Regions from separate parts of the Homo sapiens genome. Here all the other regions are reported to be linked to region 2. The links are microRNA targets in miRTarBase. Many come from high-throughput screens and were not tested one by one. Region 2 holds a microRNA gene; each other region holds the end of a gene's coding sequence.
Evidence for each region. The annotated mature microRNA hsa-miR-6089 reads GGAGGCCGGGGUGGGGCGGGGCGG and lies in region 2 at 2,689-2,712, opposite strand. An mRNA with a match to its seed (bases 2 to 7 or 8) in the 3' UTR can be bound and repressed. Matches are read on the target gene's strand: a 7mer-m8 pairs with bases 2 to 8, a 7mer-A1 pairs with bases 2 to 7 and ends in A, and an 8mer does both.

Region 1: miRTarBase lists DNAH17 as a target of hsa-miR-6089. The part of its 3' UTR that is shown has no 7-base or 8-base seed match.
Region 3: the mRNA of BBX is a reported target of hsa-miR-6089. Seed matches in the 3' UTR shown: 7mer-m8 at 1,066-1,072.
Region 4: the mRNA of DTD2 is a reported target of hsa-miR-6089. Seed matches in the 3' UTR shown: 7mer-m8 at 2,802-2,808 and 7mer-m8 at 2,758-2,764.
Region 5: the mRNA of KCNIP3 is a reported target of hsa-miR-6089. Seed matches in the 3' UTR shown: 7mer-A1 at 2,034-2,040 and 7mer-A1 at 2,413-2,419.

What each region holds. Positions count from the first base shown.
Region 1 is chr17:78,420,505-78,424,601 of GRCh38, forward strand. DNAH17 (dynein axonemal heavy chain 17) reads right to left here. Exons shown (of 81, transcript NM_173628.4): 81 at 3,193-3,649. The coding sequence ends at 3,402. PGS1 (phosphatidylglycerophosphate synthase 1) reads left to right here. Exons shown (of 10, transcript NM_024419.5): 10 at 3,557-4,097. Among named protein-coding and RNA genes, the nearest start is that of PGS1, 44 kb to the left of the region's middle. RefSeq lists an enhancer at 2,046-2,625.
Region 2 is chrY:2,607,825-2,611,940 of GRCh38, reverse strand. It overlaps MIR6089 (microRNA 6089), which reads right to left and starts at 2,750; the gene lies at 2,687-2,750. It overlaps LINC03112 (long intergenic non-protein coding RNA 3112), which reads left to right and starts at 2,701. Exons shown (of 2, transcript XR_001756051.3): 1 at 2,701-2,835. It also overlaps the pseudogene CD99P1. RefSeq lists an enhancer at 2,879-3,403.
Region 3 is chr3:107,804,989-107,809,097 of GRCh38, forward strand. It overlaps BBX (BBX high mobility group box domain containing), which reads left to right. Exons shown (of 18, transcript NM_001142568.3): 18 at 382-4,109. The coding sequence ends at 469. Among named protein-coding and RNA genes, the nearest start is that of LINC00635, 71 kb to the right of the region's middle.
Region 4 is chr14:31,444,780-31,448,895 of GRCh38, forward strand. DTD2 (D-aminoacyl-tRNA deacylase 2) reads right to left here. Exons shown (of 3, transcript NM_080664.3): 3 at 1,257-3,675. The coding sequence ends at 3,350. HEATR5A-DT (HEATR5A divergent transcript) reads left to right here. Exons shown (of 4, transcript NR_110045.1): 3 at 865-955. Among named protein-coding and RNA genes, the nearest start is that of DTD2, 11 kb to the right of the region's middle.
Region 5 is chr2:95,383,436-95,387,551 of GRCh38, forward strand. It overlaps KCNIP3 (potassium voltage-gated channel interacting protein 3), which reads left to right. Exons shown (of 9, transcript NM_013434.5): 9 at 567-2,642. The coding sequence ends at 614. Among named protein-coding and RNA genes, the nearest start is that of FAHD2A, 17 kb to the right of the region's middle. RefSeq lists an enhancer at 1,932-2,832 and a silencer at 2,266-2,560.

The sequences.
Region 1 (4,097 bases), not on the chromosome of region 2:
GCTTTGGATGGCTGGGCCTTTGGATGGTGGCTTGTGGGGAAGGGACGGTGAGGAGTCAAAGATGAGCCAGGACCCATGTGGCCGGCACATGCGCTAGTGCCGGCATCTCATGTGTGCAGCGTGGGCTCCCTTAGTGCCTGGCACCTTAGTGCTCTGCTAAGTCTCATTGTTTAAAAATGTGTAGTTTATCTGCAGCTTTTCCTAGTTATTTTAATTACTTTTCATTTTATTTGAATAGTGTGTGCAAATGTAGAGAGTAAAACAATACTGCGGCCATTTCCTGCCCTCCCTTCCCCCAGGCAGCCACTCTTGGCTTGTTTCTTCTGATGTGCACACGTGTCCGTATTTCTAAATAACGTGCATATCCTGCTGTCTTCCCCCAAAATGTGTACTTAACCAAAACAGCACCAGTGTCACTCCTGAAACAAAAATTACCAAGAATGTCTTAGTATCATCAAATACCTAAATGGTGTTCACAATTCCACTTGCCTTAAAATTAATTTTTTCGATTATTTGACTTGAAGTCCAATTAAGGACTACACCTTGTGATTGTTTTTTCCCTAGCAATTTATTTTTTGAAGAATGAACTTTATTTTTATTGGATCTACTTAAAACATTTTTGTGTCACCTAGTAGCAGGGGATTTTGAATACATGTCATGTGTGTTTATAAAGCCAGCTCTCCATATCCCCCAGTGTCTCCAGGAGCTGCTTTTGTGACCTCACTGCCTGATCTCTTTATCATCTTCAGGTGCTTGACCCTTGCACAGAGAGAAGCTTCCTGGGCTACAGGGCATGGCAGCCTGTCCTTTCGGGGAGTGAGATTAGATTTAGTCCCTGCACTTTGCCTCTCTAGAAGCAGCTTCTCGCCTTTCCCTCCCGAGGGCTGGCAGGAGTCACTGTCACCCTTCATGGGGTCTGAAAGGTTGCATAGGCTCACCTGGTCTTAGACAAGGACAGTTGCAGCTTCCGCACCAGGCAGACCTGCAGTTTGAGTGGCTGGGGATAGGTGGAGCGGCGGCCTGGCCACAGTGCCCTGGACAGCAGCACATCACATCAGTTAACACTGTTTGCCTTCCAACTAGTTATTACGGTGTCCTGTGGGACAATTAGACTGGAGGAGCCAAAGGAATGTGCAGGGGCACTGGGTTTCTGTTTGGAGAGAGGCTCTCGGTAAACAGAGTTCGCATTCCTCCAGATTCTGTGGGACCAGAGTAAATATCATTATGCCACAGCCAGGCTTAAGCAATCTATCTGCAGTGCCGTTCCCGCAGCGCACACTGCTCCCTCTGTCTCTGCTGATGACCTTCGAGGCTGTCCTAGGCAGGTTCTCCCTGAGGAGCTCCCCACACCAAGCCTCCCTAACTCTGCAAAGCAGCCGGAGCAACAGAGAGCAGCGGGCGGCGGGCGGCGGCCGCCGCAGTCCTCCCGGCTTTCTAGGTGCGCGGGGCTGTCGTGTTCCAGTCCCTGTGTTCCCCGTCGCTGGAGTGCAGCTTAAGTGCGAATCATTTCTTGGAAAGTTTAGAGATAATTTTGTCAACTACCCACAATATGTATGTGTGGACTAGATTACTTTCTTATTTCAGGATCTAAAGGCAAAATGGAAAAACGTCACATTTTGTGGTTATTACCAGGGACTGAAGTGAGTTGCCCGGTGGCCCCTGGTGGCTTTAGCTCCCCTGGTCACCTGAAGGGCTGCAGTGACCCCTCCTGGCCAGCAGAGGTATTGGCCCAGCCAGGCTGGGGGAGGCTGAAACTGCTTCCCTTCTCTGCAGCCACAAAGGGCTGGATTCCTTGGGCGCCAGGAGGGGAGGATTTTTCTTTTCCCTCCGATAGCCCTACTGGGCGCTAAGATTGTTGTGAATCATTACCCTCAGAATTTGGACTTTCTAGATGCTTCTTAACCCATGATTTAGGTGAGTAAACTTGGAAAAATGTTTTTGCAAAACTTGATGATCAAGCTGAACGTAGAACGATATTCCTAATGGGTGTGTTTGCCTTTTTTCCCCCTTTTGAGACAGGGTCTCACTCTGTCACCCAGGCTGGAGTGAGTGGCATGATCATGCCTCGCTGCGTACTTGACCTCATGGGCTCAAGCGACCCTCCTGCCTCAGCCTCCTGAGTAGCTGGGACCACAGGCACATACAACATTCCCAGCTAATTTTTTGTATTTTTGATTGATAGAGATGGTTTTGCCACGTTGCCCAGGCTGGTCTTAAACTCCTGGGCTCAAGTAAGATTGCCGTCCTGGGATTAGAGGCGTGAGCTGCTGCAGCGGCCTGCTTTTCTTTGAAGCCTGAGAAATGTTGAGGGCCGGGCACAGTGGTTGACACCTGTAATCCTGGCGCTTTGGGAGGCCGAGGTTGGTGAATCACCTGAGGTTAGAAGTTTGAGACCAGCCTGGCCAACATGGTGAAACCCCATCTCTACTAAAAATAAAAAAATTAGCTGCGTGTGGTGGTGGGTGCCTGTAACCCCAGCTACTTGGGAGGTTGAGGCAGGAGAATCGCTTGAGCCCAGGAGGTGGAGGTTGCAACGTGAGCCGAGATTGCGTCATTGCACTCCAGCCTGGGCGACAAGAGTGAAACTCTCACTCTCCCTCGAAAAAAAAAAAAAATGTTGATCCTGTCTTGGTCCCCCTGGGATCCGTCTTTTCTGACGTTTGCCGCTGTCTCCCCTCATCCCCCAGGTTGCTAGTTAATTCTCTCCCCTCGTGCCTGCACCCTGCTGCCCTAGCTAGCCTGGCCACCTCACTGCCGTGTCCTGCATCAGCCCAGCCACAGAGTCCTACAGGTCCGGGGCTTGCTTGTGGGAACGGCTTGTTCTTCTAGACTCTGGGGGCGGGGGCTTGGGTGTGTTTCCTTACTTGTAAAAGGTCCTGTTGTTTTTGGGAGCAGGGAGTAATGGCGGATGAGACGCTGTGTGGAGGCGGCAGCTCCTGGTATGGGGTAACGCCCTGTCCCCTCATTGGCAGGTGGTTTGCATGAAGCATCAGGCCAGAGGGTGTGAGTGCCAAGCCCTCACCCCACATGCTGCTCCTGTTAAAAGCAAACTCCACTGACCCCCCCGGGAAGTCAGGATTTGGGATTTACTTCCTGGAATGCTTGCCTCTGGCTGCTGGGAATTGGGGCCTTTCCCCAAAGCCTGAACCAGGCCTCACAGTGGCCATCAGGCACAGAATGGATGGGCACAGCTGAGTGGCTCCACTGGCTTTAATCTGCCCCACCTCTTCCACACCAACCTCCACCCTCTGGTTCCGATGTGCTTGGTTACAAAGCACCTGATTATTTAAGAGAACGAAAAACCACCACCAGTTCCTGTAAAGAATAAGTCACAGGTGCACAGGTGAAGGGCTGAGTTGTGGTCCAGCCCCAGGGAGTGTGGGCTGTGAGGCAGGAGCGAGCTAAACCTGTAGGAGCAGCGCCACGGCTGCCAGGATCCACTTCGCTGCCTTCTCTTTGGTCTTCAAGTTAAAGGTCCAGACATAGGTGGGGCCGCGGATGCGTGTTTTGTACACGGGACACTCATAGATGTTCTTGGTCTCCATGCGGTCCACAGGAATGGCCTTGATGAAGATGACAGGCATGGCCGGGGTCAGCTCTTTCAGCCGCGCTTCAGCGATGACTCCAGTCTGGGTGTCCCAGCGAGCCCCTGCAGGGACAGTATGGCTGAGGGTCAGGTGTGCTGCCAGTAAGTGAGGGAGGGGCTGGCAGGAAGGGTGGGGTCCTCACACTCCCCGCCCTCTGCAGAGCTGGGCTCTACCCCAAAAGGCTTCAGGCCAGCTGCCACGGCTGGAAGCAGAGGCCTTCGTAGGTGATGGCCTGCATGTTGTAACTACCCCGTCCCGCTGGGCTCAAGGAACAGCTCAGCTAAAGCCCTCGGGTTCCATCCGTTTAAATCTGTGGCATTTTCAGAGCCTCATCTGTCAGCCTTAATGTCAGTGGCAGGAAGTCATAACTCCAGCTAAAAATTACAGAGTAAAGTTCCCTGATTCTTAATGTGTAATGTCTGCCCTATGTGTACATACACAATATAATTATACATCTGTGCATATAAATATTGCCTTTAACCAGACTGCTATTATTTCTACTCGCCCTAT
Region 2 (4,116 bases):
CTGTTCACTAAACAGGTAAAAACTGGCCCTTGTTTTTGTCATGGTGGGGATACCCATACACGTAGCCTCCTGCCAATTCCCTTCTGTTGTCTTCCAGGTACAGGATTTAACTTCAAGTATTTTCAAAGAAAACTAAACCAGGTGTGCAGACCACCTCCAGAATTTGGGAGGGCCTGTGAAAATGAAAATGTGCGACCCATTGTTCCAACTGTATGAAGAATCTGAAGATGGCAGCAACACAGCAATAAAGCAGCATGGCACCCTTGTGTGCACAGGTCCCTGTGTGACTGCGCAGATCTATGCCCACGAGGCCTGACCTGGCCAAGGGAGTCACATTTGCCTTACGTTGTTCCAAAGACTAACCATTTTAAAATAAAAGCCAGCATACTGGCTGGGCGTGATGGCTTGCACCTATAATCCCAGCACTTTGGGAGGCCAAGGTGAGTGCATAGCTTGAGTTTAGGAGTTAGAGACCAGCCTGCTCCACATGGCAAAACCCAGCCCCTACTAAAAAGACAAAAATTAGCCGGGCGTGGTAGTGGGTGCCTGTAATTCCAGATGCTCAGGAGGCTGAGGCACAAGAATCGCTTAAGCCCAGGAGGCGGAGGTTGCGGTGAGCCGAGATCGCGCCACCGCACTCCAGCCTGGGCCACAGAGTGAGACTCTGAACCTACACTTCAAAAAAAAAAAAAAACAAAAAAAACAAAAAAACCAGCATGCTGGTAACAAAAAAAAAATATATCAAAAATCCAACAACAAAAATAAACAACACATATACTTCCTATGTTCCCACTGTCCAAACTCAATCCATTTATCACGCAAAAGAGATGTCTTGAAAATGATAATAATTCAATGACAATCAGCAAAGTCAGCAACAGAGGAGACTTTAAAAAGTTACTCACTGTTTCCTCCATCAGGAAAGGCATCGCTAAGTCAAAGTCAGCCCTTAAAGGAGGGAAATGAGCTGTTAATACCAATGTTCTGAGAAATGAGGAAGGAATGACCCAAAAACAGGTGGAGAAAACACCACGGCCCCACGTTTCTAAATACTTCAGAAAACGTGAATTCCTATCTTCTCATCACTCTTCCCTCAGGTGAAAACAGTAAAAGATGAGCATGAGACAGAAAAAGAGGGAGTAAGAGAGAGAGAGGAGAGAGAAAGAGGGGGAGAGAGGAGATAGAGGAGAGAAAGAGGAGAGGGAGGAGAGGGGGGAGAGAGAGAGGAGATAGATGAGAGAGGCGGGAGAGAGACAAGAGAGAGAGGAGAGAGAAGGAGAGAGTGAGGAGATAGAGAGAGGAGAAAGGCGAGAGACAAGAGAGAAGGAGACAGGAGAGAGAGAGATGGGAGAGAGAAAAGAGGAGAGAGAGGAGAGGAGAGAGAGAGGAGAGAGGAGAGGAGAGAGAGACGAGAGAGAAAAGGAGAGAAAGAAGAGGGGGAGAGAGAGAAGAGGGGGAGAGAGAGAAAAGGGGAGAGAGGAGAGAGGTGAGAGAGAGGCGAGAGAAAGAGGAAAGAGGGGAGAGAGAGGGAGAGAGGAGAGTGAGGAGAGAGAAAAGCGAGAGAAAGAAGAGAGAGAAGAGAGAGAGGGAACAGGAGAGAAGAGAGAGAGAGGAGAGGAGAGAGAGAGGAAGAGGGAGAGAAGAGGAGAGAGAGAAAGGAAAGAGAAGAGAGGAGAGACAGAAAGAGAAGAGAGACTGCAGTATCCATAAGATCCATAAGAACGTCACCAGGGTTGGGGGGGAATCGGATGCCACCTCTTCCCCAGGTTCCCCTAAATTTAAGAGTTTGCGATTCTGCAAACTGTAGAAGGAAAATTAAAACTTGGAACCCCAGTTCACTCTGCCAAAATAATTAATAATAATAATAATAAAGCTGGAAGCTGAGTCAGGCAGGAAGCTGTCTTTCCTTCTGTTCCCAAGCAGACAGTGCAATAACTCTCTGTTGACCTTATCTTAGTAAAGTGCCAATTTAGTGAGCGCAAGACAAATACATAATTGACTATTCTACCTGCTGCTTTTCTTTTGCAACAGGTGAATTCGGTAAAATGAGCCTTCCTCCTTCTTTCCCCTCCAGCGTGCTTTCCCCCTTTAAATACCGAAGCTCTCAATAGTATCTTTGGAGAAAGGCATAGACCCGTCTCCCGGGCTCCTTCCTGATCTTCGCCGAATCAACTCAAAAGGATTGGGACTTGTCCCAGATACTTTTTGGTTTACGAAAGAAACGCTGGCTTTTTCCTCTGAAACGGCTCCCACCTGGCCCCAGGAAGAGCGCTGGGGAGAAAGTGGGCGCCTCCTCCGGACCTGGGTCCCCGTGGGCACAGCGCGTCCCGCCGGGCACGGAAGAGGGGCCGGGTGTCCCCGCGGGGCGCCCCGCCCCTGCACCCCACATCCCCAGGCGGATCCCCAGGCCCAGCCCGCGCCACCCCCCGCGTCCTCCCACCCGGATCCCGCCGCTCGCTCACCGGGGCGGCCACCAGACGGCGGAGCAGGCCGAGGAGCCGCAGCGCCAGCACGGCCCCGCGCGCCACGGCGCGCCCAAGGCGAGCAGAGATCGTCCGCGAGTGCAGCGCGCGGGCGAAGGCGGCGGGACGGAACCTCCCCCACGGGCCGGGTGGGGCGGAGCCCGCGGAGGACTCGAAGGGGTTGGGTGAGGGGAGCAGCCCTGCAAACTCAGCCCAGGCTGCGCCTGCCCCGCCCCGCCCCACCCCGGCCTCCACTGGCGCACGGAAGGGGAGGGAACGCCGGGCCCGGGGAGGGGACAGAGGAGGGGGCGGGCGGAGGTGGCTCGGGCCGCGCCGAGGGGACCACGGGACGCCCTCCTTCCCTTCTCAGGAAACTGTGAGTGCCCCCCGCCCACAAGCCCGTCGCCAGGATGCCGCCAACTAGAGCAAAGTGAAACCCCCAACATTCTCGGGAAAGTGCGGGTCCCTCCCTCTCTACAGCCCCTTAAATGCACGCCCCAGGGCGGCCCCTACCTGGAGCCAAGAGAAACCGCTGCCCTTCTTGGAGAGGTGTGGGCCTCTCCGCGCCCGCCCTTGCTGTCCCCTCTCTGTTCCTAACAGGCACCCCCCCCAGGCAGCCCCAACGGGGAGGAAATGAAACTCTTCCTGCTCCTCTGCTCGGAAAACTATGGGGCCCCCTTCCAGCTGCTCACGGGGCGCTCAGGGCGATCCCCAAGGGGTGCAAAGTGCAATCCCCTCCCTGCTTAGAAAGGCGTAGGCCTTGACAGGCAGCCACGGCCCCTGGTCCTTTCTGGAGCGTCCGAGCTGGGGGCGCTCAGTGGTGAAAGATGGCGGGGGTGGGGGGCTTTGAGACACACTGCGGATACCCGCTCTGCGCGGGACCAAGGACGTTCTGCCGCAAGCTCAGAGACAGGGTTGGGAGTGAGGACTTGTGGTCGTGGTTTGGGGTTGGGGGTAAGACCCCTATCTGGGTCGCCTGGCTGAGTCCTGGTCCTTGGCGACTCACCCCAGCAGGCTGCGTCAGGGGCCCTTCGGTAACACTGGTCTTGTGCTGTCTCAGGCCTGCGGGTGACTCCGTCTCTCCCCAGGCCACCTGTGCCCCTGGATCAGACACAGGCAAGGCCAGAGGGGCTGGCCCCGCACCCTGGGGCCCACCTCAGGGGTTTGAGGAATGCAGCAGTCTAACTATGCACTCCACTCCTGGAGGCAGAATCATTTTTCTTTTTTCTTTCTTTTTTTTTTTTTTTTGGTCTTTGCTTCATCCTGAACCTGCCTGGGATAATGACGTGATGGCTGGAGTCCCAGCAGCCAGTTCGAAGCAGGAAGTCTCCTACAGGATAGAAGTTGTCTGTGTGTTGTTTGTTTGTTTATTTGTTTGTTTTGAGATGGAGTCTTGCTCTGTGGCCCAGGCTGGAGTGCAGTGGCACAATCTTGGCTCACTGCAACCTCCGCCTCCCGGGTTCAAGTGATTCTCCTGCCTCAGCCTCCCCAGTACCTGGGATTACAGGCATGCACCACCATGCCAGGCTACTTTTTGTATTTTTAGTAAAGACAGGGTTTCACCTTGTTGGCCAGGCTGGTCTCGAACTCCTGACCTCATGATCCGCCCACCTCGGCCTCCCAAAGTGCTGGGATTACAGGCATGAGCCACCGCACC
Region 3 (4,109 bases), not on the chromosome of region 2:
CAAGAACCCCAGTCCTTGATTGAAATTTTCCCACTTCTTAAAGAGTTGCCCCAAATCTGTTGGTACTTAAAATTTCATCTCTTCAAAATGGAAGTGGTTAGTTGTTTGAGGCCAGAGGGTATGCTGTTGAGTTGTATGAGGGGAATTCAGATATAAAATCTTAGGAAGGGAGACAGAATGGGAAGGAGGAAGGGGAAAAAAAGGATAAGGAAGGGGACAGAAGAGAAAAAACTCTAAAGCAAAAACAGTTTTCATTAAATGATGTAAGTAACAGCAGTAACTGTTAAACAAGATATTGGAACACACTTGTTATTCATCGTCCTCTCCTGTCTCTAATAACATATGCTGAATAAGTGACTTTTTCTTCCTTTTATTTTACAGAGGTCAGAGGTCAACTCCGCTCACCCATGATGGACAGCCAAAAGAAATGCCGCAGGCTCCTGTACTTATTTCCTGCGCTGACCAGTGAAGCGCCCTTTCATTGTAAAACATTGTGCTTTACCTACTACCCTAGCCTTGTCTTTACCGAGGGATGCTAGTGAGTCCAAGTGGTGGAAAATATAGACTGCAAACAAGTGCTTGTTGCCCCACACGGCCCAGATTCACTTGAAGCAGAAGTTAGCATCCTGGGCCAGTTTGTTCTCTCAGAACCCAGAATCTTTGAGGGTAAGGTTATCTGTCTGATACTGAGCAGAAACAGAATGATCCTGGAGCTTTGCTTTCTATTGAAGGCTTTTGACGGTAATAGGTGGTAACTTGGTAAAAGGCTGCCTTTACTGTAGCTCACCCAGCATCTCTTTTACCAACCAGAGAGTGTGAAACTAGTTTCATATATTACCTAGTTATTCTTTCAAAACAAAACAAAAAAAAAACAAAAACTGACGCACTGCACTAGTTATTATTAGATATTCTTAGTCTTTTTTGTACATGGAGATTTAAGTTTAAGATGGTTTATATAATAGGTTATACCTACATTTATATTGTAGAATAAATATTAAAAAGCCTGTTCCAGAGACTCCCAAGCAGCCTGGGCAGGCAGATGTACCATTGTTAGTGGTGTATGCTCGGCCTCGTGGTCCATATATTCTGCACTTTTATATTTGCCACCAGAATGGTAGTTTGCTGGCAAAAAAAAAAAAAAAAGAGAGAGAGAAAAAATTACAACTCTTACAATCTGAATTTTTTTCTTAGCCTTGAGTGACCAAGAAGAATTTGCTTGAGGCAAATTGTGGCAAATATTTTCCCAGACAGGGGAAGAGTCCTGCAGATTACAGATTACTGGTGTTTTCATGCCTTGAGGATTCTTTTATTTTTACATAGGGGTCTAAGTGACCAATGGATTGTTCATACAAACAAAAAAAAAGACAAAAATATTATTCAGAAGTGACCTTAGTATTACTTCACTATTCTAAACACATTGAAGACACTCACTTCATGTGGACTTGGAGCTACAGACCTTTTACATCCATCACAGATTGGCTGGACGGGTTGCAATTGCTATGCACAGCCTGATTGGCACTGCAGGTTTTTAGAGCCATTTTGAGTTTGTGTTGTTTAGGAGGTACTGAGTCAATGATGAGGGAGGTATGCCTGACCAGAGTGGGACTCTCAGTCATAGATCCACCTGCAAGTCTCTGTTTCCTTTTTGTGTTTTGTTGCTTTTGAACATAAAACCAACCATACATAAGCAGCGCCAAGTGGATTAACTGGCTTAGAACATTCAACATATTGACTTAACCACCTGACATTCACAGTGTCTTGTTTCCTAGCAACAGATGCAAAGTGATAAATCAAAATTAGTCTGAGGCTACAGATTTTACAGGGTATTTGTTCTATAGCACAAAGTATTTCCCCACTCTTGCGTCACAGCACAAACTACCAAATTTTAATTATTGGATTCCAGCAATAATTTTTAATGGTTTTCAAACTGGCGGAATTTTGACAGTGCTAGTTCGAGTTTGAAGCTTTTGAATTAGATCTCTAAATGGTGACAGTTTACATGGTTTTATCTAGCTTTCTTATTTATACTTGACTGAATTGTAATGATTTTTTTTCTAATTGTAATTTGACGTAATAGCCATACAAAAAATGACTCTATTCATACTAGGTTTAGCTTCTCATGGTTGTAGATATTACTTCAGTTCCGGTGCTGGAAAATATGTACAACATACTAACAGGATTGAAAAAAAAATAGAGGTTTTTCTTCTTGTTTTTTTTTCCAAAGCAGGTAAAGAGGGTAGCAAAGCATCGGAATGATGTGCTCAAAAATGCATATTCCTGGTGGGGATGGAGGAAGAAGGCATTAGTAAAAGGTTAATCAAACGTTACAACTTAACCCCATTCATGTAGGAATAAATCAAGTGAGCAGTTCCAGACTTTTGCATAATATTTTTACTATGATGCTGTTTTATTAATATTTTCTAAATTTCAAAACAAAAAGTGAATGTTTGAAATTGCTGGGTCCCGATGTTGGTGGCTGTTGGAGTTTTGGACCACTCGCTAGCAGTGATTTGAAGATTATAATTAGCTAAAATCCAAAACAAAAAACCAACAACAAAAATTGTATGGTGCGGAACATGCACCTTGACAATGGTACTAACTTGTTATTCTATAGAACACGTTAGAATAGATCTATTTTTGCCAGAGCACCCTCCTTCAGTCCTCCGATTACATTTCACTAGAGTTCCTTACGAGATTGCTGTATATTCCTGGGACCTTTTTTAAAAAAAAAAAAAGCAAAACAAAAGATTACTTTTTTTCTATGTGATTAATATCTTACTTGATCTGCTTTTCCTAAACCTCAGTGGCTTTTCCCTTAGGCAGGGTTGGGGGTGGGAGGGCAACTTACTGGAGATGACTGTTTTCAGATACTTTAAAACAAACCTTTTTGTAGAAATGCTTAATTTTTAAGCGGTTAGGCACTGAGAGTAGCAGAAATCCTGCAAAGCTTTATAGTTCCTTAGACTCACCTTGTCGATTCTCTGAGTAAAGTCTTGATTTCAATAATTGTGCTTCTCATGCCCTGAAACTGCTGGAGAGGAGTGTTGTTATTTTCAGGTAACAACATTCGTTAGCACAAATATTTCAGACCAATATTAGTGCTCTCCACCCCACCTTTTGTTATCATTTTCATTTCATTTCTCTCATTCTTTTTTATTTTGGAAAATCATATTGCTATAGTGTGTACTTTAATCTGCCAGCAGATACCATCTACACTAACATTTGTCCCACAGCATCCTCAAGAGAAAAAGTTGTTGCACCTTATATATATCTCAAGCAAACCAAAATATGATGCTCTTCTGCTTTGTTTTATTCTAAATTGTTGTATCATATCTTTCTGAAACCATTCTGAATTTAGTTGAAATTATCAATATTTATGCTTTTAACCTTAATTTCTGGATTCAAGCCTGTATATAAATCTTTTGAAAAAAAATTGTCCTAGCCCTTCTCTGCGATGCTGGAAGTAGAAGATTGCGTCTCAGATGGAGACGCAGTACTGTTCCAGTTTTCTTTAGCCTTTTATTTATTTAGTTATTCTGGGTATTTCCTATGTAATTTTGAAGTGTGTAGAGTATATTATAGTAACTGAAGCTGCAGCTGTAAGAAGCTGAGTGAAAGAAAAAATACTGTAAGACATCCTTAAAGTTTTTATTTGTTTGGGTACTGTATATGAGATCAGGAAAAAGAAAAATGTCCCACAGCCACATTGGAAATACAGGTTCTTGTCCCCAAATTAGGTTAGTTCCCAGATTTTAGATCAAAACTGTTAATTCATTAAAACCCCTTTTAAAAGGTAAATTCTACTGTTGTAATTCCGATAGTCTTTTTCCCACAAATATCAGAAATATATTTATTTAATTCTGTCAGATGAGCTTTCTACCGATGCCATGTCCCAAAGCCATGTTAAAATAATTCCCACGTTATCATTGTGATTCTACTTCCTGCCACTAAAATTGCTGGAGAAACAAAATAATGATGGAACACTATGAACAAAAAGGAGCATCTGAACTGGTCTGGTTATTTAGAATCCAATGTGTTCAAATCCTTTTGTTTTCTTATTAAGTCAGATGCTACTGTAAGTCAGATAAAATTTTGTTTGCACTCTGCAG
Region 4 (4,116 bases), not on the chromosome of region 2:
GATTTTATAGTATTGATATTGATATCTGATAAATTTAGTTCTTTCATTATGGAGTCAAGAAATCATCACTAGTACAGATACTATTCAGAAATAAATGGTATACCTTCTTTTATGACTTGAACTCATGAAAGAATGGTAAAAGTATGTTTGATTTTACTTTATATGAAAGTACTCAAGCTATTACAACCATATCCATTGTGTCTTATACACAATGGAAAATATAGTATTTTCTATAATTGAATCCAGAGGTTTCTAAATTGGCAGATAAAATAGTACCTGTATTTAGATATTCTATTTGAAACATGCTTTAATCTTAGGAAAACAGAGGCAGAAAGCACCTAAATTAGGTGCAATCCTGTCTGCTCCTAATTTAGAAAATAAACCAATTTATTGGCTATTCTTTCTCAAGTGATCCACATTGAGAGATGCTAGGTCTTTATCAAGATCAATTTCAAAATTTTTTTTTTTTTTGAGACGGAGTCTTGCTCTCTCGCCCAGGCTGGAGTGCAGTGGCGCGATCTCAGCTCACTGCAACCTCTGCCTCCTGGGTTCAAGTGATTCTCCTGCCTCAGTCTCCCAGGTAGCTGGGACTACAGGCGCCCGCCACCACACCTGGCTAATTTTTTGTATTTTTAGTAGAGATGGGGTTTCACCATGTTAGCCAGGATGGTCTCGATCTCCTGACCTCGTGATCCACCCGCCTCGGCCTCCCGAAGTGCTGGGATTACAGGCGTGAGCCACCGCGCCCAGGCCAATTTCAATTTTTAACAACTGTCACTACAAGAAAGTCAAGAAAATAGAAATTAGTCCTCCCTCTTGTGTGACCTTGGGGAAATTCCTTAAGCATTGTCTTACTTTCCACAGCGCTATCCTCATCATACATATACTGTGAAGATAAAATATCTGTTGAAGATTCTTTGAGCACCTTGGGCCAGAAGAGCTACAGAAAGCCAAGGTATAGTTATTTTCATATCCACGACTTCATTTGCCTTTTCCCTTGTTGTAGCCTCTCTGGAAATTAAGCAAAGATGCCTATCACCTTCTGCTTAATAACCCTTCATGTACTTGAAATTGTTATTCTCCCCAGGTACCTCAAGCACATTTTTTAAAGAGGATTGCCTAAACTCTAAAACAGCAATCAAGGGCTATGAGTCAGCATTTCACCTAGACATAAAATCAAAATGGTTTAAAATAGGTAACATTATCTTTTTGAAATATGTACATACCTCTTTGGAGAAACTTTGAGACAACTGGAGTTTGCAAGTTTATGAATAGTTTATTACATTTCAGTAAGTGTATTGTGAATCAATAAAGCAAAAGTTAAGGACAATGAGCTCATTACCAAGCCAGTTATTGATTCTCTGGTTCCAAAATAGAACAGTACAGGAAGGGTATAGAGAAAATAGGATTTTTCATGATAAAAATTTTAAGCATCTTAGGAACACAGACCTAAAGAAACTATAAGACACAACGGAAATTTCAGCAGCTACTTAGGATGTTTATTTATTTACCTTTTTTTGCCAATTAGAATTAGTTATTTGGTTTTTACTCTTAAAAAAAAAAAGTATTTTCAACTCAAGTCAGAGGAGTTTGCCAAAACTGAATATTACCTCTTACTGACTTAATTATTCTTTCAATTTCTTGTATATCTTCCTCTCTTGCCTTTGAAAAGTTTACCTTACTAGCTGTCTATCTTATATCACTGTCGTAGCTCAGACTGCCCTAACAAAATACCATAGGACTGGGTGGTTTAAACACCAGAAATTTATTTCCTCACAGTTCTGGTGATTAGAAGTTCAAACTCAAGGTGTCAGCATGGTCTGTTTCTGGAGACTACTTTCTTTCTGGCTTATATGTTCCAGGATGGGATGGTTGGAGGAGCCCCATCTCCAGATACCATCACATTAATAAGGGCTTCAACATATAAATTTTGGGGACGGGAACATCTAGTCCAAAACATTCACTAACAGAAAAATTGACACTGGCTCCATATCATCAAGCAGATAATATGGAAATGAACAAGTCAATTTGTTTTCAAACTATTCTTATGGGAAGCTTCCCTTTTTCTCCCTTTTACAGCAATCTAATTCAATGGAAAAGGAACTTCTTAAACAATTTATGAACTAACACTAATTTCATGAACCAGTTCTTTAAAAAGCGAAGACAAAAAGTGAGACACATGATTTTGGTAAAAACTGAAAAATAGACCATTAACCCATTTATATAGTATGTTTAATAAAAACAACTTTTAAACCCTTATACTTTGTTCTTATATCAAGTAAAGATTCTTAAAGTAATGTAAAACATTTGAATGTCCCTGGAAAGTAATATAACACACAATAACCCTTCTATATTACATATATATCTATATGTATATGTATATGTTAGAGACTGGGTCTTGCTATTCTGCCCAGGCTGGTCGCAAACTCCTGGGCTCAAGTGATCCTCCCACCTCGGCCTCCCAAAGTGCTGGGATTATAGGCATGAGCCACCACATTTGGCCCTATATTACATTTTCATGCATATTATTAAAAGAAATGGTGACTTACATATGGAAATACAGAAAACTGAAATAGTAAACAAAATTAACAAAGTTATAATTGGGTTGTGCTGAAGTTTACCTAATTTTAATACAAATAGTTATTTTTATTACATGCTACACAAATTTGATGGTATAAGAAATGTGTTTTTCTTGTTTGCATGAATTTCTTCATTGCAAAATACTTAAAATGTACATAATTTTTAAAAAACAACTAAGAGGCCGGGCACGGTGGCTCATGCCTGTAGTCCCAGCACTTTGGGAGGCCGAGGTGGGCGGATCACGAGGTCAGGAGATCGAGACCATCCTGGCCAGCACGGTGAAACCCCATCTCTACTAAAAATACAAAAAAATTAGCTGGGCATGGTGGCATGCGCCTGTAATCCCAGCTACTTGGGAGGCTGAGGCAGGAGAATCGCTTGAATCCAGGAGGTGGAGGTTGCAGTGAGCCGAGATTGCGCCACTGCACTCCAGTCTGGCGACAGAGCAAGACTCCATCTCAAAAAAAAAACAAAAACAAAAAAACAATTAAGAACATTTCCTTAATGACTATGAAGTGAATAGACAGCATATTTCAAATTTTCAAGTAGAAGGGTAGAGGAATGTAGGACAAAAGGTGACTGAGATCCAGAGTTTAGGTGACTTGGCAAAGTCATCCAATTAGCAGGTGCAGAGTTATATATGAAACCCAAGATTTTCCTGTCTAAAAATGCTGAAGATTAGTATATTCAAGATTAAGGGGAAGAAAATCTAATTATACTTTAGATCATTTCATACCAGAAAACAGCTATAGAAACTAGTTTTTCATTTTCAAAACTCAATTAAGTGTGTGAATGGTCCGTTGGTGTCCAGCTTTAACACCTGCCTGTTCCCATAAGTGCCATGTTCCACTACAACCCTAGCTTCAGCACACTTGCTATTAGCAGCTACTTCTTTTTCACATAGAGTCACAAATTGAGAGTAAAGTTCAAACCCTTCTTCTTTTCCAGAGTTAGAGTGATATTGCATGTTTCTTCCTTTTAGTCTTCCTCCAAGGGTAGCTTGAGGGATAATAAGAATGTTGCCAGGTAGATCCAATATAGAGACATGCTTGCCATTTTCTGTCTCACTTAATTTCACATTTAACAGTGTATTAACTGGGTGAGGAAGAAAGGCAAAACATTTTAAAGTGAAAAACAAACATGAAGAAAACCATCAAGTTTTTAGTCAGCAAATCTCATGTTTAAAATTCAGTTTGTCAGCTCATGCCTCTAACCCAAAGTCTCTATTTAGATTTAAAATACTGCTTCACTAAGCTAAATAATCTAAGCATGAAAAATAAGGCAATTTTCATGCAGAAAATGGCATGATATTTTAAATCTGAATTGGCAGTTAAGATAACCTAACAATAAGTTCATCCAGAAAGGTCTAAAGAATTAACTGTACACTGGAACCTCAAATATTGTTCCCCTGGGGGAATACATGAGAAGATTTTACCTTCCTGTTCTTTTTATTTAGTAAGTAAATCCCACTGGAAAAATATGAGGATAACTCCTCCTCACACCAAATTCTGCTTGCTTGCTTGCTTGCTTTATTTA
Region 5 (4,116 bases), not on the chromosome of region 2:
CTCCTGGACAGCCCCAAGCTCCACTTGCCCTCTTGTCTGAGTCTCCTCCTCCCCACCCACCCCTGCAGCCCACAGCATCCCCCCACTACCCCCACACCCTCCCTCAGCCCAGTCCCTGGAGAACCTCAAGTTAGGGGCAGACATGGGGCCAGCCAGAGGGAGAGGGTCACCGTGGGGAGGCACCAGAGCTTCCGCAGTGTTGCTGCTGGCCCTTCCAGAGAGCACCTCAGGGGGCAGGATGCTGGGCCTCCAGCGCCTCTATTGCCCCACTCCCAGAGCAGTCCTGGTTAGCGCCCACCTCCTCTGGAGGCCAGCCGGGATCGCCTTCATCAGCTCATCCCAGATGGGCTTGCAGTCAGGAGTGGGGTTGAAGACAGGCTGTGCCTCACCAGCTGGGGACCTCGGACCAGCTACTTCACCTCCCTGTCCCCCAGCTCCCTGCACCCAATAAGACAGACAGACAGGCAGTCGCTGCAGGCTCCGAGTCCCTGGCGGGAATCTGCTCAAGGGGGTCGGATTTGGAGCCCACCCAGCACCTGAAGGCCTCCCTTCCTCTCTCCATGCAGGATGAGAACATCATGAGCTCCATGCAGCTGTTTGAGAATGTCATCTAGGACACGTCCAAAGGAGTGCATGGCCACAGCCACCTCCACCCCCAAGAAACCTCCATCCTGCCAGGAGCAGCCTCCAAGAAACTTTTAAAAAATAGATTTGCAAAAAGTGAACAGATTGCTACACACACACACACACACACACACACACACACACACAGCCATTCATCTGGGCTGGCAGAGGGGACAGAGTTCAGGGAGGGGCTGAGTCTGGCTAGGGGCCGAGTCCAGGAGCCCCAGCCAGCCCTTCCCAGGCCAGCGAGGCGAGGCTGCCTCTGGGTGAGTGGCTGACAGAGCAGGTCTGCAGGCCACCAGCTGCTGGATGTCACCAAGAAGGGGCTCGAGTGCCCCTGCAGGGGAGGGTCCAATCTCCGGTGTGAGCCCACCTCGTCCCGTTCTCCATTCTGCTTTCTTGCCACACAGTGGGCCGGCCCCAGGCTCCCCTGGTCTCCTCCCCGTAGCCACTCTCTGCCCACTACCTATGCTTCTAGAAAGCCCCTCACCTCAGGACCCCAGAGGGACCAGCTGGGGGGCAGGGGGGAGAGGGGGTAATGGAGGCCAAGCCTGCAGCTTTCTGGAAATTCTTCCCTGGGGGTCCCAGGATCCCCTGCTACTCCACTGACCTGGAAGAGCTGGGTACCAGGCCACCCACTGTGGGGCAAGCCTGAGTGGTGAGGGGCCACTGGGCCCCATTCTCCCTCCATGGCAGGAAGGCGGGGGATTTCAAGTTTAGGGATTGGGTCGTGGTGGAGAATCTGAGGGCACTCTCTGCCAGCTCCACAGGGTGGGATGAGCCTCTCCTTGCCCCAGTCCTGGTTCAGTGGGAATGCAGTGGGTGGGGCTGTACACACCCTCCAGCACAGACTGTTCCCTCCAAGGTCCTCTTAGGTCCCGGGAGGAACGTGGTTCAGAGACTGGCAGCCAGGGAGCCCGGGGCAGAGCTCAGAGGAGTCTGGGAAGGGGCGTGTCCCTCCTCTTCCTGTAGTGCCCCTCCCATGGCCCAGCAGCTTGGCTGAGCCCCCTCTCCTGAAGCAGTGTCGCCGTCCCTCTGCCTTGCACAAAAAGCACAAGCATTCCTTAGCAGCTCAGGCGCAGCCCTAGTGGGAGCCCAGCACACTGCTTCTCGGAGGCCAGGCCCTCCTGCTGGCTGAGGCTTGGGCCCAGTAGCCCCAATATGGTGGCCCTGGGGAAGAGGCCTTGGGGGTCTGCTCTGTGCCTGGGATCAGTGGGGCCCCAAAGCCCAGCCCGGCTGACCAACATTCAAAAGCACAAACCCTGGGGACTCTGCTTGGCTGTCCCCTCCATCTGGGGATGGAGAATGCCAGCCCAAAGCTGGAGCCAATGGTGAGGGCTGAGAGGGCTGTGGCTGGGTGGTCAGCAGAAACCCCCAGGAGGAGAGAGATGCTGCTCCCGCCTGATTGGGGCCTCACCCAGAAGGAACCCGGTCCCAGGCCGCATGGCCCCTCCAGGAACATTCCCACATAATACATTCCATCACAGCCAGCCCAGCTCCACTCAGGGCTGGCCCGGGGAGTCCCCGTGTGCCCCAAGAGGCTAGCCCCAGGGTGAGCAGGGCCCTCAGAGGAAAGGCAGTATGGCGGAGGCCATGGGGGCCCCTCGGCATTCACACACAGCCTGGCCTCCCCTGCGGAGCTGCATGGACGCCTGGCTCCAGGCTCCAGGCTGACTGGGGGCCTCTGCCTCCAGGAGGGCATCAGCTTTCCCTGGCTCAGGGATCTTCTCCCTCCCCTCACCCGCTGCCCAGCCCTCCCAGCTGGTGTCACTCTGCCTCTAAGGCCAAGGCCTCAGGAGAGCATCACCACCACACCCCTGCCGGCCTTGGCCTTGGGGCCAGACTGGCTGCACAGCCCAACCAGGAGGGGTCTGCCTCCCACGCTGGGACACAGACCGGCCGCATGTCTGCATGGCAGAAGCGTCTCCCTTGGCCACGGCCTGGGAGGGTGGTTCCTGTTCTCAGCATCCACTAATATTCAGTCCTGTATATTTTAATAAAATAAACTTGACAAAGGAGAGGGATTCCTGTTGGCTTTATCCTAGCTCTGAACTTCAGCTCAGCTCTTCCCACCCCTGCTGCCATTAGCCGTGGATCCTGCCTGGTGCTGTGCTGGTAAATGTTTGACAGCTGGCTCTGGGGGCAGAGAATGCCGCTCAAATTCTCAGGCTCACAGTGTGACCTCACTGAGGCCGAGTGAGGCCGAGATGCACACAGTGGGCCTTTGTGGCCTTCATGGGAAGCGCCAGCCCTGCAGCCTCCGCACAGACCCCACAGGGCAGGAGGACTTCTTCCTGAGGCACCATGTGTATTTCACCCCCAGATAATTTTTCTTTCCCAGTTCCAGGAAGTCATTCTGGGTGTCCCCTTGGCTGGAGAGTGAGGGTCACGGGGCAGAAGAAAGCAATATTTGCCTGAACACATCTCCTGGTGTTTATTTTCAGAAGTATAAGCCCTGTGAGGACAATGCCAGGGAAGGGACAAGAATGAAAGCCTGGGAGGAGGGAGGAGGAGGGTTCCCCAACTCACCAGTTCAGATTGAAGAAATCCAAACACGTTCTAAGCAAGTGAGATAAAAGGGAACTCACCTAAACACGTTACGGTGAATTGCAGAACACCAAAGACAAAGAGATGGCAAAGACAGCCAGAGACAGATTGCCTGCCAGCTCTCCTCAGTGACAGTGATGCGGAAAGACGGGAATGGCATGTCCAGTTTGCCAAGAGAAAAGTAACTACCAACCTGGAATTTTACACCAGGCAAATAAAATATTTTCAATGTGGCATGGTGGCTCACGCCTGTAATCCCAGCACTTTGGGAGGCCGAGGTGGGTGGATCACCTGAGGACGGGAGTTCAAGACCAGCCTGGCCAACATGGTGAAACCCCATCTCCACTAAAAATACAAAAAATTAGCTGGGCATGGTGGCGAGTGCCTGTAATCCCAGCTACTAGGGAGGCTGAAGCAGAAGAATTGCTTGAACCTGGGAGACAGAGGTTGCAGTGAGCCAAGATGGTGCCACTGCACTCCAGTCTGGGGAGGAATAGACTCAAAAAATACATAGTCTCAAAAAATAAATAAATAAATAACTTAGGAGACTTTGCCACCAATAGATAATAGAGAAAAGGGCTTTACTTCATGTGGAAGCAAGGCGATCTCCCAGCTAAAAGTTCCAAGATGCAAGAAGCATGAAGGGTGTAGACAGCAGTAAATATTAAGGGAATCTAAAGAAATGCAATGTTACTTACAAAAATAGTAAAAAAAAATCAGCATAATTTCCAAAAATAGCTAATGCCATATTTCTAGCCTCACTGCTCTCCCAGACCTTATCGCTTCCTCATCAAGAGATGGAGACTAGTTTTCCTGCCCTCAAAACTCAGTAGGACTTCATGTGACTGTCTTGATGAATAGAACATGGCAGAAGTGAGGCTCACTCACTCACATGCGTGATAGCCGGTGCTGCTGGCAGTAAGCGGGAACATCAGTTGGGGTTGT